Linked DNA regions of Homo sapiens: region 2 is linked to region 1. Evidence: fine-mapped expression QTL. Tissue or cell type: testis. Region 1 holds a variant in brackets; the other region holds the start of a gene. All regions are shown on one strand. Distances are from middle to middle.

Region 1 (8,178 bases):
AATCGTCACTGGCTGGGGAAGTCGTGGGAGTCCTCCAGCCCAGCAGGTGGAAGGCGTGGTCTCAAGTCCCTTTCCTCCGTGTTCTGCAGATCATCACACAAGGTCCATCACGTCATGCTGCTTTGACCCCGACAGCCAGAGGGTGGCTTCTGTCTCATTGGACAGGTGCATCAAGATCTGGGATGTTACATCCCAGGCCACGCTGCTCACCATCACTAAGTGAGTTGGACCCCAGGAGGCCAGAAGGGAGTTTGGGTGGGGCGTCCCCATTCATGACTTCCTGAATTCCACATAAGCCAGCATCCATGTGGACACGTCTGTAGCTTGGTCATAGGTGCTCTGAGGAGGCTGGGGACAGGCAGGCAGGAGGGAGCCATCAGCTGTGGCCTGTGGGCTGGGCTGGGCCTCAGATGCATTTGTTTCAATGTGAGCCACTAGTGGAAATCATTGTGCAGAGAAGTCCACAAAAGGTGAAGTTCCAGCATCTCCTGTAAAATGGGAAGGTCTGGCTGGGCGTGTGGCTCATGGCTATAATCCCAGAGCTTTGGGAGGCCAAAGTGGGAGGATCACTTCAGGCCAGGAGTTCAACACCAGCCTGGGCAATGTCACAAGACCCCATCTCTACAAAAAATTTAAAAATTAGCTGGGTGTGGTGTCACACACCTGTAGTCCCAGCTACTCAGGAGGCTGAGGCTGGAGGATTGCTTGAGCCTAGGAGTTTGAGGCTGCTGTGAGCTATGATTGCACCACTGCACCCCAGCCTGGACAATGAAGTAAGACCCTGTCTAAAAAAAATAAATAAATAAAGTGAATTCAGTCGTTTTGGAGATATTACATTATCATTTAAAAAAATTTTGGGGCTGGGCTCGGTGGCTCATGCCTGTAATCCCAGCACTTTGGGAGGCCGAGTGGGGCGGATCACCTGAGGTCAGGAGTTCGAGACCAGCCTGGTCAACATAGTGAAACCCCACCTCTAGTAAAAATACAAAACTTAGCTGGGCGTGGTGGCGGGCACCTGTAATCCCAGCTATTCAGGAGGCTGAGGAAGGAGAATAGCTTGAATCCGGGAGGTGGAGGTTGCAGTGAGCCAAGATTGTGCCACTGCACTCCAGCCTAGGTGACAGAGTGAGACTCTGTCTCAAAATATATATATATATATATACACGCACACAACATAAAACATGATATTTTAACCATTTTTAAGTGTGCAATTCTCTGCCATTCATTACATTCACAGTGTTGTGCAACCATCACCACTATTTATTTCCAAAATGATTTCATCATCTCAGACAGAAGCTCTTACCCGTTAAGCAATAACTCCCCATTCCCCATGCCCCCAGCCCTGGGTAATGTTTATTCTACTTTCTGTCTCTATGAATCTGCCTATTCTAGATATTTCATATAAGTAGAGTCATACATTATTTGTCCTCTTGTGATTAGGTTATTTCACTTAAAATAATGTCCTCAAGGTTCATCTGTGTTGTAGCCTGCATCAGAACATCAGAACTTCATTCCTTTTTTTTCCTTTGAGACTTAGTCTCGCTATGTCCCCCAGGCTGGAGTGCAGTGGTGCCATCTTGGCTCACTGCAACCTCTGCCTCCTGGGTTCAAGTGATTCTCCTGCTTCAGCCTCCTGAGTAGCTGGGATTACAGGCGCCCACCACCACACCTGGCTAATTTCTGTATTATTAGTAGAGACGGGGTTTCATCATGTTGGCCAGGCTGGTCTCAAACTCCTGACCTTGTCATCCACCCACCTCGGCCTCCCACAGTGCTGGGATTAAGAACTTCATTCCTTTTGATGACTGAATAGTACTGCATTATAGGTGTACATACCACATTTTGTTTATCTGTTCATCTGTTGATGACCTCTTAGGCTGTTTCTACCTTTTAGTTATTGGGAATAATGCTGCTATGAACACATGTACATGTAACTTTGAGTTCCTGCTTTCAATTCTTTTTATTTTATTTGATTTCGAGACAGAGTCTTGCTCTGTTGCCCAGGCTGGAGTGCAGTGACGTGATCATAGCTCACTGGAGCCTCGGATTCCTAGGCTCAAGTGATCCTCTTGCCTCAACTTCCTGAGTAGCTGAGACTACAGGTGCACACCACCATGCCTGGCTAATTTTTAAGTTTGTTTTTTTTTTTTTTTTGCAGAAACGGGGTCTCATTATGTCTCCCAAGCTAGTCCTGAACTTCTGAGCTCAAGTGATCCTCTCACTTTGGCCTCCCAAAGTTCTGGGATGACAGGTGTGAGCCACTGCACCTGGCCTGTTTTTAATTCTTTACTCTGTATACCCAGGAGTGGAATTGTTGGATCATATGGTAATACTGTGCTTAGCTTTTTCAGGAGTGGGGATCTTGCTTATTAATTTTGCACTGAGAACTGAAAATGATATAGCCCGACCGACATTATGAATTTTTTAAATCCTCTAGCAAGATCAGCTATATCATTTGCAGGGTGCAATCTCGGCTCGCTGCAACCTCCGCCTCCCGGGTTCAAGCAATTCTCCTGCCTCAGCCTCCCGAGTAGGTGGGACTACAGGCGCCCGCCACCATGCCCAACTAATTTTTGTATTTTTAGTAGAGACAGGGTTTCACCACATTGGCCAGGCTGGTCTCAAACTCCTGACCTTGTGATCCACCCACCTCGGCCTCCCAAAGTGCTGGGATTACAGGCATGAGCCACAGTGCCTGGCCACACTGTGGTTTTCATTTACACTGTCATTCATATTGTTTTTCTCCTATAGGTAAAAAGTCATTTCTCTCTTGCTGCTCTGAAGATATTTTTGTTGTCCTTAGTTTTCTGAAGTGTAATTATGTGTCTGGGTGTAGATTTCTTTGGATTTATCCTGTTGGGTTTTACTCAGATTCTTGAATCTGTAGGTTTATATATTTTGCCAAATTTGGTAAAATTTCAGCCATTTAAAAAAATTACTTTTAAAGTTGACTCCATCTTGTCCAGAACTGTACGTGCAGCATAGCCATTTTCCCCAAACTTCTGTACAGGTGAAATGGCCTTCTACGAGAAGTGGGATTTATGTGAAATGAGAGTCCATAGAGATACCTCTGGTTTATTTATTTATTTATTTATGTATTTATTTATTTAGAAATTGCTATGTCTTTTTTTTTACTTTAAGTTCCAGGACACATGTGCAGAATGTGCAGGTTTGTTACATAGGTACACATGTGCCACGGTGGTTTGCTGCATCTATCAACACGTCATCTAGGTTTTAAGCCCCGCATGTGTTAGGTATTTGCCCTAATGCTCTCCCTCCACTTGCCTCCCACCCCCTGACAGGCCTCAGTGTGTGATGTTCCCCTCCCTGTGTCTATGTGTTCTCACTGTTCAACTCCCACTTATGAATGAGAACGTGTGGTGTTTGGTCTTCTGTTCCTGTGTTAGTTTGCTGAGGATGATGTCCCTGCAAAGGACATGATCTCATTCTTTCTCATGGCTGCATAGTATTCCATGGTGTATATGTACCACATTTTCTTTATCCGGTCTATCATTGATGGGCATTTGGGTTGACACGAAGTCTTTGCTATTGTGAATAATGCTGCAATAAACATACGTGTGCATGTGTATTTATAGAAGAATGATTTATAATCCTCTGGGTATACCTCTGGTTTAAACCTCAATGACAGTGTCTGGCTGCTGGGAGAGCTTGCAGTCAAACCTCCATGATATGCCAGCATGGTTCTTAGCTCACCAGGCACTGGGAATTGGTGAGGTTTATCCCGGATGGC[C/T]CTGCGAAGTTGACATTTCTTCTCCTTTGGCGTTGCTCAGTTTGTGCCTTTCAAAGAACCAAAATGGGTTCCAAAACTCTGATCTGAGCTCTAGAAAATTGTTTTGCTCAACCTTTTCTTCAGGTCAAATGATTGATTTTATGATCCAGGCTACTCAGAGAAAACTCTGCTTACAAGAGGAGGTGAGAATCACAGGAGAAAGACATTGAGGGTTACAAACAAAAAGTGGCAAAATACAGACAGGCTTTTTATTATTATTATTTTTCTGAAAAAGAAGATGCTTAAAAATTGGAATGAATAACTTCATTTTTTTTCTGAGATAGAGTCTTGCACTGTTGCCCAGGCTGGAGTGCAATGGCACAATCTTGGCTCACTGCAACCTCCACCTCCTGGGTTCAAGTGATTCTCCTGCCTCAGCCTCCAGAGTAGCTGGGACTACAGGCATGTGCCACCATGCCCAGCTAATTTTTATATTTTTTGTAGAGATGGGGTCTTGCTATGTTGCCCAGGCTGGTGTCAAAATCCTGGGCTCAAGCAATCCTTCCACCTAGGCCTCCCAAAGTGCTGGGATTATAGGCATGAGCCACTGCACCCAGCCAAATAACCCACAATTTTATTAATTAAATATACAACACTGAAATATACTTGAATAGCACTGAAGACAAATGAGGATAGGAGTGAGAAAAAGGGAGAGTGAATAGTTGGGGTGGAGAAGCAGAGGAGTAAGTAAGAGAGGGGTGGAACAGGGGGAGACCACGCCTGACATTGTTGGGGGAAAGATGGGGAGCAGGAGAGAGCCTCTGTGTAAGCGCCACCCAGCACCAAGCCCCAAAGGCTGTCTGTCAATCAATCACTCCTGACACCAGCTGCTTTTCCCTCCAGCGCCAAGGGAATACTGCAGAATCTTCCCAAATGAGGGCAATTTGTGCCCCAGTGGACATTTGACAATGTCTGGACTCATGTTTTGTTGTCACAACTGGGTGTGGGGGTTCCTGGCATCTAGCCAGGAGAGGCCAGGGATGCTGCTCCACCTCCTACAGAACACAGGACGGCCCCCACAACTCTGAGTGACCCAGCTCAAAATGTCCACCTTGGTGTGGTTGGCCCAGTGCCGTGGCTCACGCCTGTAATCCCAGCACTACTTTGGGAGGCCAAGGCAGGTGGACCACTAGAGCCTAGGAGTTTGAGAGCAGCCTGGGTAACATAGCGAAACACTGTCTCTATTATTATTTTTCTAAAAATTGGTGCAGTCGAGAAATGCTGGAACAGCGTGACAGTCTGAGCAATTCACATCTGGACCATGGTAGGCAGTGATCAAAGGCATGATGAACATGAGCTCACAGGAGATGCTGACCCCCACTTAGGTATGTCTTCAGGTCCTCTTGGGGCGAAGTGCTAGCATGTGCAGCCCGACCATGAGCTCACAGGAGAAAATACCCCCGGCTTTAGGTATGTCTTCAGGTCCTCCAGGAGCAAAGCGCTAATGTGTGCACCCCACCATCTGTGTTTCAGGGCACATTCCAATGCAATCTCAAACTGCTGTTTTACCTTCAGTGGCCATTTCCTGTGTACAAGCTCCTGGGATAAAAACTTAAAAATATGGAACGTCCACACAGGGGAGTTTCGAAACTGTGGAGCCTGTGTGACTCTGATGCAGGGCCATGAAGGTTCTGTCAGTTCCTGTCACTTTGCCAGAGACAGTGAGTAATTAACATGCAGAAGGCCTCCATTCCTGTGGGAGTGCTGGGCAGAGTTCTCCATGTTCCGTTCAAATGGACAGAGAGGCAATTTCCAATGATGCTGACAGGGAGGGCGGATTCTTCCCCACGAGAACAAAAAACCCAAGAGGGAAGACCACAGGTACCAGTTTACAGTGGTAGAAACTCAGCTCAATGTGGCGTATGCAACCAAAGAAATTGATTAATCCTGTAATGGAAAAGTCCAAGAGCACGTCTGACTTCAGGCATGGATGGGACAAGAGAGTCAATGCTGTTGGGAACCCAACCCTTCCACTCTGTCTTTCAACCTAGCTTCCCTCTGTATCAGCCTTTACCCCCAAGGAGGCAAAGATGGCCGGATGAGGTGCCTTATGCCTGTAATCCCAATGCTTTGGGAGGCCAAGGTGGGAGGACTGCTTGAAGCCAGGAGTTCAAGACCAGCCTGGGCAACACAGCAAGACCCTGTCTCTACAAAAAAATTAAAAAATTAGCTGGGTGTGGTGGTGCACACCTGTAGTCTCAGCTCTTCAAGAGGCTGAGGTGGGAGGATCACTTGAGCCCAGGAGTTTGAGGCTGCAGTGAGCTATGATTGTGCTACTGCACTCCAGCCTGGGCAACAGAGTGAGACCCTGTGTCTAAAAAGAAAAAAAAAAAGGCCAGGCACAATGGCTCATGCCTGTAATCCCAGCACTTTGGGAGGCTGAGGTGGGCGGATCACCTGAGGTCAGGAGTTCAAGATCAGCCTGGCCAACATGGTGAAACCCCATCTCTACTAAAAAATACAAAAATTAGCCAGGTGTGGTGGTGGATGCCTGTAATTCCAGCTATTCGGGAGCCTCAGGCAGGAGAATCGCTTGAACCCGGGAGGCGGAGGCTGCAGTGAGCCAAGATTGCACCACTGCACTCCAGCCTGGGTGACAGAGCGAGACTCTGTCTCAATATATATATATATGTATATATATGTGTATATATATATATATGTATATATATGTGTATATATATATGTATATATGTGTATATATATGTATATATGTGTATATATGTATATATATGTGTATATATATATGTATGTGTATATATGTGTGTGTGTATGTATATATGTATGTATGTGTGTGTGTGTATGTATGTATATATATATATATATATATATATATATATATATATATATATATATATAAAATTAAAGAGGTAAAGAGGACCTTTAGTGGTCCAGCTCAGCCTAGTTCTGGCCCCTGGCAGTCCTGGAGAAAGAGACCTTCTGTCTGATGGTGCCAGAACAAGTCCCAGGGAAGACTCCCATTGGCTCAGCTTGGGACACATGTCCATCTCTTAATGAATCACTTAGGGGGCAACGAAAGCCTCTGATTGGCCAGGTCTGGGTGACTTGCCCACCTGCAGAGCTAGGGTTGGGGTCAGAACCCCCTGATGCAGAGGGACTAAGAGTAGGCAAGGAGTGTTTCCCCACAGGAAATTGGGAGCTGTTGCCAGATAAAGGGACATAGAGGTGAATGGGGGCAGTGACAGGAAGCCACCGCGGCTAGCCAGCTCCAGGGAGGGAAGTGGGTGCTCTTGACACTCAGGAGCCAAACATATGCTCCCCTATCCTGGTGAGAAGTGGGGCTTGCTCTGTGTGTCTGGGGGCCTCAGCTGGCACACATGCCACTGGGGCCTGGCTTGAGAAGCACTAGGGTGCTTCTGGGCAACTTTCCCTCTTCAGCAGCACCCCTTGTCTAAGTCCCACTGTGAGGCACCCTGCCAGCTTCTGTCCTTGGCTTTATGGGGTTCAGAATCACATGCAGTTGAGCCAAAATTGTGCCACTGCGCTCCTACACTCTAGCCTGGGTGACGGAGTGAGACTCTGTCTCAAAAAAAGAAAAAAAGAAAGAAAAAAAAAAGAATCACATGCAGTTAATCATTATTATTCCTGATTCTGTATTTGTGAAGTCACCTACTTGCTGATATTTATTTGTAAACCTAAAGTCAACATTCATGGCACTTTCAAGGTCACTCACAGATGTGAAGAGCAGCAAAAAATCTAAGTCACCTCCCAGCTGAGGTTGGACAAGGCAACACTCTGCCTTCTTGTTTCACCTCCCACGTGGTAAAATGTCCTTTTTGTGGTCTATTTAGTGCCACCATTTTTTTTTGTTGTTGTTTGTTTGTTTTGCTCCCTCTGTTGCCCAGGCTGGAGCGCAGTTGCGCGATCTTGGCTCACTGCAACCTCTGCCTCCTGGGTTCAAGCGATTCTCCTGCTTCAGCCTTCCAAGTAGCTTGGATTACAGGTGCGCACTACCATGCCTGGCTAATTTTTGTATTTTTGGTAGAGATGGGGTTTCGCCATGTTGTCCAGGCTGGTCTTGAACTCCTGTCCTCATGTGATCTGCCTGCCTCAGCCTCCCAAAGTGCTGGGATTACAGACGTGAGCCACCACACCTGGGCTTTCTTTTGCTTTTTGTTAGTGATTTTGCTGTGTAAAATGGCTCCCTTGGCCGTGTGTGGTGGCTCACAGCTTTAATTTCAGTGCTGGGGGGGTGCTGAGGCGGGAGTATTGCTTGAACCCAGGAGTTTGAGATCAGCCTGGGCAACATAGTGAGACCCCATCTCTACCAAAACAAAAAAAAAAAATTTAGCCAGGTGTGCTGGCACCTGCTTGTAGTCCCAGCTACTTGGTAACTGAAGTGGGAGGATTGCTTGAGACCAGGAGTTTGA
Region 2 (8,178 bases), 24 kb before region 1:
AGCTCTACAAAAACAAACAAACAAACAAACAAAAAACAAATTAGCTGGGCGTGGTGGTGCACACCTGTGCCTCCAGCTATTTGGGAAGCTGAGGTGGGAGGATCTGTTGAGCCCGGGAGTTGGAGGTTGCAGTGAGCCACTATCGTACCACTACACTCCAGCCTGGGTGATAGAGCAAGACCCTCTCCCTAAAAGAAAAAAAAAAATGTGTGTATTAACTAGGCTTTTTAAAAAGTTTGAATATCTAATTATGTAAGTGATATGTGAATATATTATCATTATGAAAATTCAGGCCAGGCGCGGTGGCTCATGCCTGTAATCCCAGCACTTTGGGAGGCCGAGGCGGGTGGATCACAAGGTCAGGAGCTCGAGACCATCCTGGCTAACACAGAGAAACCCCGTCTCTACTAAAAATACAAAAATTAGCTGGGCGTGGAGCGTGTGCCTGTAGTTCCAGCTGCTGGGGAGGCTGAGGCAGGAGAATGGCGTCAACCTGGGAGGCGGAGCTTGCAGTGAGCCGAGATTGTGCCACTGCCCTCCAGCCTGGGCGACAGAGCGAGACTCTTGTCTCAATAAAAAAAAAAAAAAAAAGAAAAGAAAATTCAGACCTTACAGCCAATGCTTAAAGGAGCCCTGACTAGTTCTCCAAACCTCTACTTTCTCCACAGTAACTTCTGCCATCAGTTTCATATGTAACCTTTAAGACCTTTTTTGTGCAACCACACACACACACATACACACTCACGTACATGGATGCACATACACATTGTTTGTTTCTTTTTTAGACGAGTCTCGTTCTGTCACCCAGGCTGGAGTGCAGTGGTGCGATCTTGGCTCAGTGCAACCTCTGCCTCCCGGGTTCAAGCAGTTCTCCTACCTCAGCCTCCCAAGCAACTGGGATTACAGGCACCCGCCCCCACACCCAGCTAATTTTTGTATTTTGTATTTTTTTAGTAGAGACAGTGTTTCGTCATGTTGGCCAGGCTGGTCTCAAACTCCTGACCTCAGGTGATACACCCACCTTGGCCTCTGAGTGCCAGGATTACAGGTGTGAACCACCATGCCTGGCCTATATACAGATTTTTGTGCACATTTTAAATATAAGTAATATAATTTTATATAGCATATATTTATAGGGTATGAATTTTATTTTATTTTTTGAGACAGAGTCTCGCTCTGTGACCCAGGCTGGAGTGCAGTGGCCTGATCACAGCTCACTGTAAACTCTGCCTCTCCGGCTCAAGGGATCCTCCCACCTCAGCCTTCAGAGTAGCTGGGACTGTAAGTGTGCACCACCACACCCAGCTAATTTTTTTAAAAAATCATTTTTTTTGAGACAGAGTCTTGCTCTGTCACCCAAGCTGGAGTGCAGTGGCGCGATCTTGGCTCACTGCAAGCTCCACCTCCTGGGTTCACGCCATTCTCCTGCCTCAGCCTCCTGAGTAGCTGGGACTACAGGTACCCGCCACCACGTCCAGCTAATTTTTTGTATATTTAGTAGAGACGGGGTTTCACCGTGTTAGCCAGGATGGTCTCAATCTCCTGACCTGGTGATCCGCCTGCCTTGGCCTCCCAAAGTGCCGGGATTACAGGCGTGAGCCACCACACCCGGCCTAAAAAAATCTTTTTTGTAGAGATGGGATCTCCTATGTTGCCCAAACTGGTCTCGAACTCCTGGCCTCAAGTGATCCTCCTGCCTCAGCCTCAGGCGTGAGCCGCTGCGCAGGCCTGCTCTTGCCAGTTTTATCTTTATTGGGAAGAAGGGTGTTGTGTGAATTCTTTGAGTGTCTGGCTTCTGAGATTCCTTCAGATGATGGTAGGCAGCAGTGAGGGGCTTGTAGTCATTGCTGTGGAAGATTCCTTCTTGTGAGCACACCACGGTATGTTTATCTCTTCTGTTGTGTGGATACTGGGTTTTTTACTTTGAGTCTGTGGAGCAGGGATTTTCAGCCAGTGTGACCCAGCTCTGTTTCAAATAGAACTGCCACGAACATTCCTATATGTATGAAATTCAGATTTAGGCCAGGTGCGGTATCTCACGTCTGTAATCCCAGCACTCTGGGAGGCCGAGGCAGGCGGATCATGAGGTCAGGAAATCGAGACTATCCTGGTTAACACAATGAAACCCCAAACCCCATCTCTACTAAAAAAACTAGCCAGGCGTGGTGGCACGTGCCTGTAGTCCCAGCTACTCAGGAGGTGGAGGCAGGAGAATCGCTTGAACCTGGGAGGTGGAGGTTGCAGTGAACCGAGATCGCGCCACTGTACTCCAGCCTGGGTGACAGAGACTCTGTCTCAAAAAAAAAAAAAGAAAAGAAATTCAGATTTAAGACTGACAACTTGGGGGCTGGGCATGGTGGCTCATGCCTGTAATCCCAATACCTTGGGAGGTCAAGATGGGAGGATCGCTTGAGCCCAGGAGTTCAAGACCAGCTCGGGTAATATAGGGAGACCCTGTCTCTATAAAAAAATTAAAAAAAAAAAAAAGACAACTTGGATGCTTTGGGCCCTGGAGTGAATGTATTTTAGTTCCTTCCCAAGGGTCATGCAACGGATGCGGTAGGTGAGTGAAACTGAGATTAAAAATTGCTTGTATTCTCAAGGCTAAATAAGACTAGGGAAAAAAGTTGCTTTTATAAGTGGTCTTAATACGAGGTGTGGGTGAGTGAGTCTCTGTGTGTTTTCAGGGTAATAGAAGAAGCATTTTAAGAACACAGATTGGCCGGGTACGGTGGCTCATGCCTGTAATCCCAGCACTTTGGGAGGCCGAGGCGGGCAGATCACAGTCAGGAGTTCGAAACAAGCCTGGCCAACATGGTGAAACCCCATCTGTACTAAAAATACAAAAATTAGCTGGGTATGGTGGCATGTGCCTGTAATCCCAGCTACTCTGGAGGCTGAGGCAGGAGACTTGCTTAAACCTGGGAGGCGGAGGTTGCAGTGAGCTGAGATCGCACCACTGCGCTCCAGCCTGGGCGACAAAAGTGAGACTCCATCTCGGGGGAAAAAAAAAAAAAAGCACAGATTAGGCAGTACTTCATTGTGGGTTATTGTGAGTGCATTTTGTAGGTGCAGACATGCTGCTGTGATATGGGGAGGCCTGGCATTCTCAGCCTCCACGGAGCTGTTTGGTTTTTCACTTTAGCTAACTTTCCATTTCTCTCTTTTCTGTTTTCTTTTCCAGGCTGAAAAGTCTTCCACTAAGAAGGCAGTAATTGAATGCTGCCCTGGCTCGTCCTAGAATCATTTCTCCTCCATGATGGAAGCCCAGTGATTGTTCAGTTAACGCATTGTACAGAGTGTATTTATATGTAAATTCCTGCTGTAAAATAATTTTTAAAACCTTGACATTTCAAAGACTGCCTTGAAAGGTCGCAGAAATTGATTTCTATTTTTAATTTCAGTTAGTATCGGGGGAAAAAAATCCAGACTGAACAGTTTAATTAAAGTGGAATTTTTCTATTTTCTTCTTGATTTTTAAAAAATTTCCTGGGACGTTAAAAAAGAAGTTAAAAGTGAAGGCTTCTCTCTGGTTTTGTGATGAAGACAGCCTGGACTCACTGAAGGACAAGCGTGTGAGAAGGGGCGGTTGCGGCCCCTCCTGCCGTTTTTTGGGAGTGAAGCTCTTCCCTCTCTGGGTGGCTGGGTTACTGTTGGTGCCCAGGAAGCCCCATGGGAGGGCAGAGCCAGGGCCTGGCAGGGGGCCTCAGCCTCTCAGGGTAGATGTCACTAAAGTGTCTGAGACAGGCAGGGAAACCAGGCAGGAGAATGTGCACCCACAGCCTGGGTTACACGGCTGCAGCTCCCTGCTCTGAGGCCACCTCATGTGTACCAAGGAGACCTTTTTGAAAAATAAAGTGCAGACCAGGTGTGATGGCTAATGCCTGTAATCCCAGAGCTTTGGGAGGCCGAGGCGGGAGGATTGCTTGAGCCCAGGAATTCCAGACCAGCCTGGGCCACATAGAGACCCCTGTCTCCACAAAAAATAAAGTATTGAGCATTTGTATTTTACATTATGAAAGTAGCATCATAGATCACAACAATTTTAAAAGCAGAAAGAAGGAAGAGGCCGGGTGCGGTGGCCCATGCTTGTAATCCCAGCACTTTGGGAGGCCGAGGCCAGCGGATCACTTGAGGCCAGGAGTTCAAAAACAGCCTGGCCAACATGGCGAAACCTTGTCTCTACTAAAAATACAAAAAAATTAGCCAGGTCTGGTGAGCATACACCTGTAATCCCAGCTGTGTGGGAGGCTGAGGCACGAGAATCCTTTGAACCCTGGAGGTGGAGGTTGCAGTGAGCCGAAATTGCGCTACTGCAATCCAGCCTGGGTGACAGACTCTTGTCTCCACCAAAAAAAAAAAAAAAAAAAAAGAAGGAAGAAAATCACTTTTAGTTTTATCATCCAAAGATGACACCCTTCTTCAATATTTTGAATAATTCCACCCTGTCCTTTTCTAGCTATGGGGCTGTTATCTGACTGGTGGTAGCATTTTATTCCCTGTCACTGTTGTTGGGGTTGTGACAGATATTTCCCTCATCTATTATAAATGTTGTAAACCCACCCCTAATAACTGCATCTTATTTCATGCAGGGGCTACCCCATAACTTACTGACCTTTTCTGTTTTGTCATGAAGTGGGTTGGCCAGGAGCTGTACCCAGGCAGAGGACATGAAGAAATTGCCCTGTGACAGGAGCCAGGGAAACCACAGCGGAGGGCTGGAGGCTGGGGTGCTGGTTTTGCTGGCTCGGCCTGGTTCCCAGAATGCAAAGCCCATTTTTCTTTTTTTTGCAACCTCCACCTCCTGGGTTCAAGCCATTCCCCTGCCTCAGCCTCCCATGTAGCTGGAACTACAGGCGCACGCCCCCATGCCTGGCTAATTTTTGTTATTATTTTTTTTAAGTAAAGATGGGGTTTCACTAAACCTGTTGGCCAGGCTGGTCTCCAACTCCTGACCTCAGGTAATCCGCCCGCCTCGGCCTCCCAAAGTGCCGGGATTACAGGCGTGAGCCACCGCGCCCGGCTGCAAAGCCCATTTTTCTATAGGTAACCTGTGCTGCGCGGGGTGGCACTAGTTTTCACCCAGCGGGCGAGGAGGCAGCGAAGTCGCGGGCCCAGCGTAGCGCGCGCCTCCGAAGGGCTTGGTGCGGGCGCGGGCGCGGGCGCGCGGCGCCACCGTTCCCATCCAGGCTTGTCGGCGGCCACCGGCGGACCGGGCTTCGAGATGGCCTCCCCGCCGCGGTGCTCCCCGACAGCCCATGACAGGGAATGCAAGTTGCCGCCACCCTCCGCCCCCGCCAGCGAGTATTGTCCCGGCAAGCTGTCCTGGGGGACCATGGCGAGGGCCTTAGGCCGCTTCAAGCTGTCGATCCCGCACACGCACCTGCTGGCCACCCTCGACCCCCTGGCCTTGGACAGGGAACCACCACCGCATCTGTTGCCTGAGAAGCACCAGGTGCCGGAGAAATTGATCTGGGGCGACCAGGACCCTCTCTCCAAGGTCAGAACCGCCGCTGGGGTGAGGGGGCACTGGCCTGTTCCCCACACGGGAGGAAGGCGCTCGAGCTGTCGGGGGACCCATGGAAAACCCACCTGGCTTCACCAGGACCCCCAGCGAGGCCCTAGGCCCATTTCCCCATCTGTGGTACATCTGTGGGCAAAGGTCAGACCCACCTGAGCAGGGCGTGCTGGGGATGCCGGCGGGGGCTCCCCGCACTGCCACCTGCTGGGGAACCAGGACTCTTCGCTGGGAGGAGGCTCTGCCCCACCATGTGACCCCATCTAGACCTTGGAGTCTCCGTAGGTAGGCCCACCCACAGTGATGCTCCTAATTGCAGCCCAAGGGTCGGTGGCTCAGCTCTCCCCGTCCAGGAGATACAGTTAGCGTCAGAAGAAACGGGAAACTCAGAATAATAATAACAACAATGAATTGGGCCAGGCAAGGTGGCTCACACCTGTAATCCCAGCCCTTTGGGAGGCCCAGGTGGGAGGATCACTTGAGCCCAGGAGTTTGAGACCAGCCTGGGCAACATAGTGAGAGGTCGTCTCTACAAGAAATAAACTTAGCCCAGTGTGATGGGGCGCACCTGTGGTCCCAGCCACTTGAAAGGCTGAGGCAAGAGGATCCCTTGAACCCAGGAGTTTAAGGCTGCAGTGAGCTATGATTGTGCCACTGCACTCCAGCCTGGGCAACAGAGCGAGACTGTCTCCAGAATAAATAAATAAATAAATAAATAAATAAATAAATAAATATAGAGAGAGAGAGAGAAAGAAAGAAAGAAAAAGAAAAAGAAAGAAAGAAGGAGAAAGAAAGAAAAACTGGCTGGGTGCAGTGGCTCATGTCTGTAATCCCAGCACTTTGGGAAGCCGAGATGAGCAGATCACTTGAGGTCAAGGGTTCGAGACCAGCCTGGCTAACATGGTGAAACCCTTTCTCTACTAAAAATGCAAAAATTAGCCAGGCATGGTGGTGCGTGCCTGTAATCCCAGCTACTCAGGAGGCTGAGGCAGCAAGATCATTTGAACCCGGGAGGCAGAGGTTGCAGTGAGCTGAGATCATCTCACTCCATCTCAAAAACAAAACAAAACAAAAACCCAATAAAGAACATTCTCAATAAGTAGCGTTTCATGCTTGGCCTTGATTTATTGCACTCACATGCAGATGTCAGAGTGTGTTTTTAATAATTTCCTCGAAACCTCTGCCTGGCTTCCCAGCATGTTTAAGATGAAGTCTGGCGATCTGCCTGTGGCCTTCCAGGCCATTTCAAATCTGGCACCTCTCCATGTTCTCCTCCCCCATCCCCCTGTCTTGCTGACCTACAAGCAGGTCTGGCCTCAGGGATCTTGGCGGTTCCCTGCCCCCACGGTATTGCGCTCTTGGGGAGGCCCTCCCTGACCGCCCGTCTAAAGTAGCCAGGGCCACTGTCTCCTCCGTGCCTCATGCCATGGTCTGACATCCCCGTTCCGTCCTCAAGGTGTCCTCTGGCTGCCAGCAACTGGCCCCTCGAGGTTAGGGACTTTGCTCCTAGGTGGCTGCTGAGCTGCAGCATCAGGTCCAGGCCCCATGGGGGAGGAGGCTCTTGAGGTTTATTTGTGGAATATGTGAATGAACGCTACGCATAGAAGAACCGTTTTGTTTTTGCTCTGTCCTCTGCATGAGCTTTGTCAGCACCTCTGAAATGTACTCATGTGTTGGGGACTTCTCTCTGCAGCCCCTGGGACCCCTTTACCTAGTGGATCCCAAGGGACTGTGTGCAGAAAAAAACCTGAAACGAGAGCCCCAGAAAAGCCTGTGGTGGGGGTAGCGGAATGGTTCCCCCCTCTTGCTAATGTTTTTCCATGATGGAGTTCTAGGTTTTTTGTTTTCCTATTTTTTAAATTAAATTATATATTTTTTAAATTATTAATTTTAATTTTGATTTTTTTTGTAGAGAGGGGGAGTCTCGCCATGTTGCCCAGGCTGGTCTTAAACTCCTGGCCTCAAGCAATCCTCACTCCTGGGCCTCCCAAAGCACTGGAATTGCATGCGTGAGCCACTGCACCCAGCCAATTTAATTTCAATTTTTAATGATAGTTGGGTTTTCCTAATGAGAGAGATAACCCAAACCCTGCAGGGGCGGCAGGGGCTGGGGTCGCCAGAGGCGGGGGCGGTGCGGGAGGGCCGCGCAGGTCATGTCCCGGGGACTGGGGCCGCTCCTGGGGTAGGGAGCCAACCCTGCACGCGCGGCCCCGGCCTGGCCCGACGGGGTTAGCGAACTCCCCCGGAGAAAAGCCCGGTCCCAGCTCTCCACGCTCCCTGGCAACGGAGCCCGCGTTCCAGTGTCCTCGTGTCCCCGAGCCCCCTAGAGGCGGGGTATCATCTCATCCCCTGCATCTCCACCTGCACGTCCCCGACACCCCCCCCCCCGCCCCGCATCACCTGCAACCGGAAGGCCACCGCCGCCCTGAACCGTCGCATCCCCTCACCCCTGTCCTCCTGCCAACTCAGCCCAGCACCCTGACACTGCCTTCCAGGCCACACCCCTGGTCTTGCCTCCAACATTTCCCCCACCCCCACACTTCCGCAGCTCAACCTGGGACGTGTCGCCATGCGCGAGCTGGGGTGGGTGGGTGGGGGGGGTGACATCTTCAGGCTTCCCTGCTCTGTCCTCTTTTTTTCCCCCCAGTTTTACTGAGATA

Evidence for each region. PIP is the estimated chance that this variant, and not a neighbour inherited with it, causes the effect.
Region 2: it holds the start of WDR88, and the variant in region 1 is fine-mapped to the expression of WDR88 in testis (GTEx, PIP above 0.99).

The regions. Positions count from the first base shown.
Region 1 is chr19:33,151,092-33,159,269 of GRCh38, forward strand. It overlaps WDR88 (WD repeat domain 88), which reads left to right. Exons shown (of 11, transcript NM_173479.4): 6 at 90-219; 7 at 5,264-5,451. Among named protein-coding and RNA genes, the nearest start is that of TRT-AGT1-3, 22 kb to the right of the region's middle. RefSeq lists an enhancer at 191-360 and a cis regulatory region at 276. The variant C/T (reference allele first, on the strand shown) is at 3,752.
Region 2 is chr19:33,126,946-33,135,123 of GRCh38, forward strand. It overlaps WDR88 (WD repeat domain 88), which reads left to right and starts at 5,169. Exons shown (of 11, transcript NM_173479.4): 1 at 5,169-5,500. The coding sequence starts at 5,225. It overlaps GPATCH1 (G-patch domain containing 1), which reads left to right. Exons shown (of 20, transcript NM_018025.3): 20 at 3,185-3,597. The coding sequence ends at 3,215. RefSeq lists enhancers at 368-537, 5,006-5,175, 8,013-8,062 and silencers at 2,104-2,248, 7,813-7,932.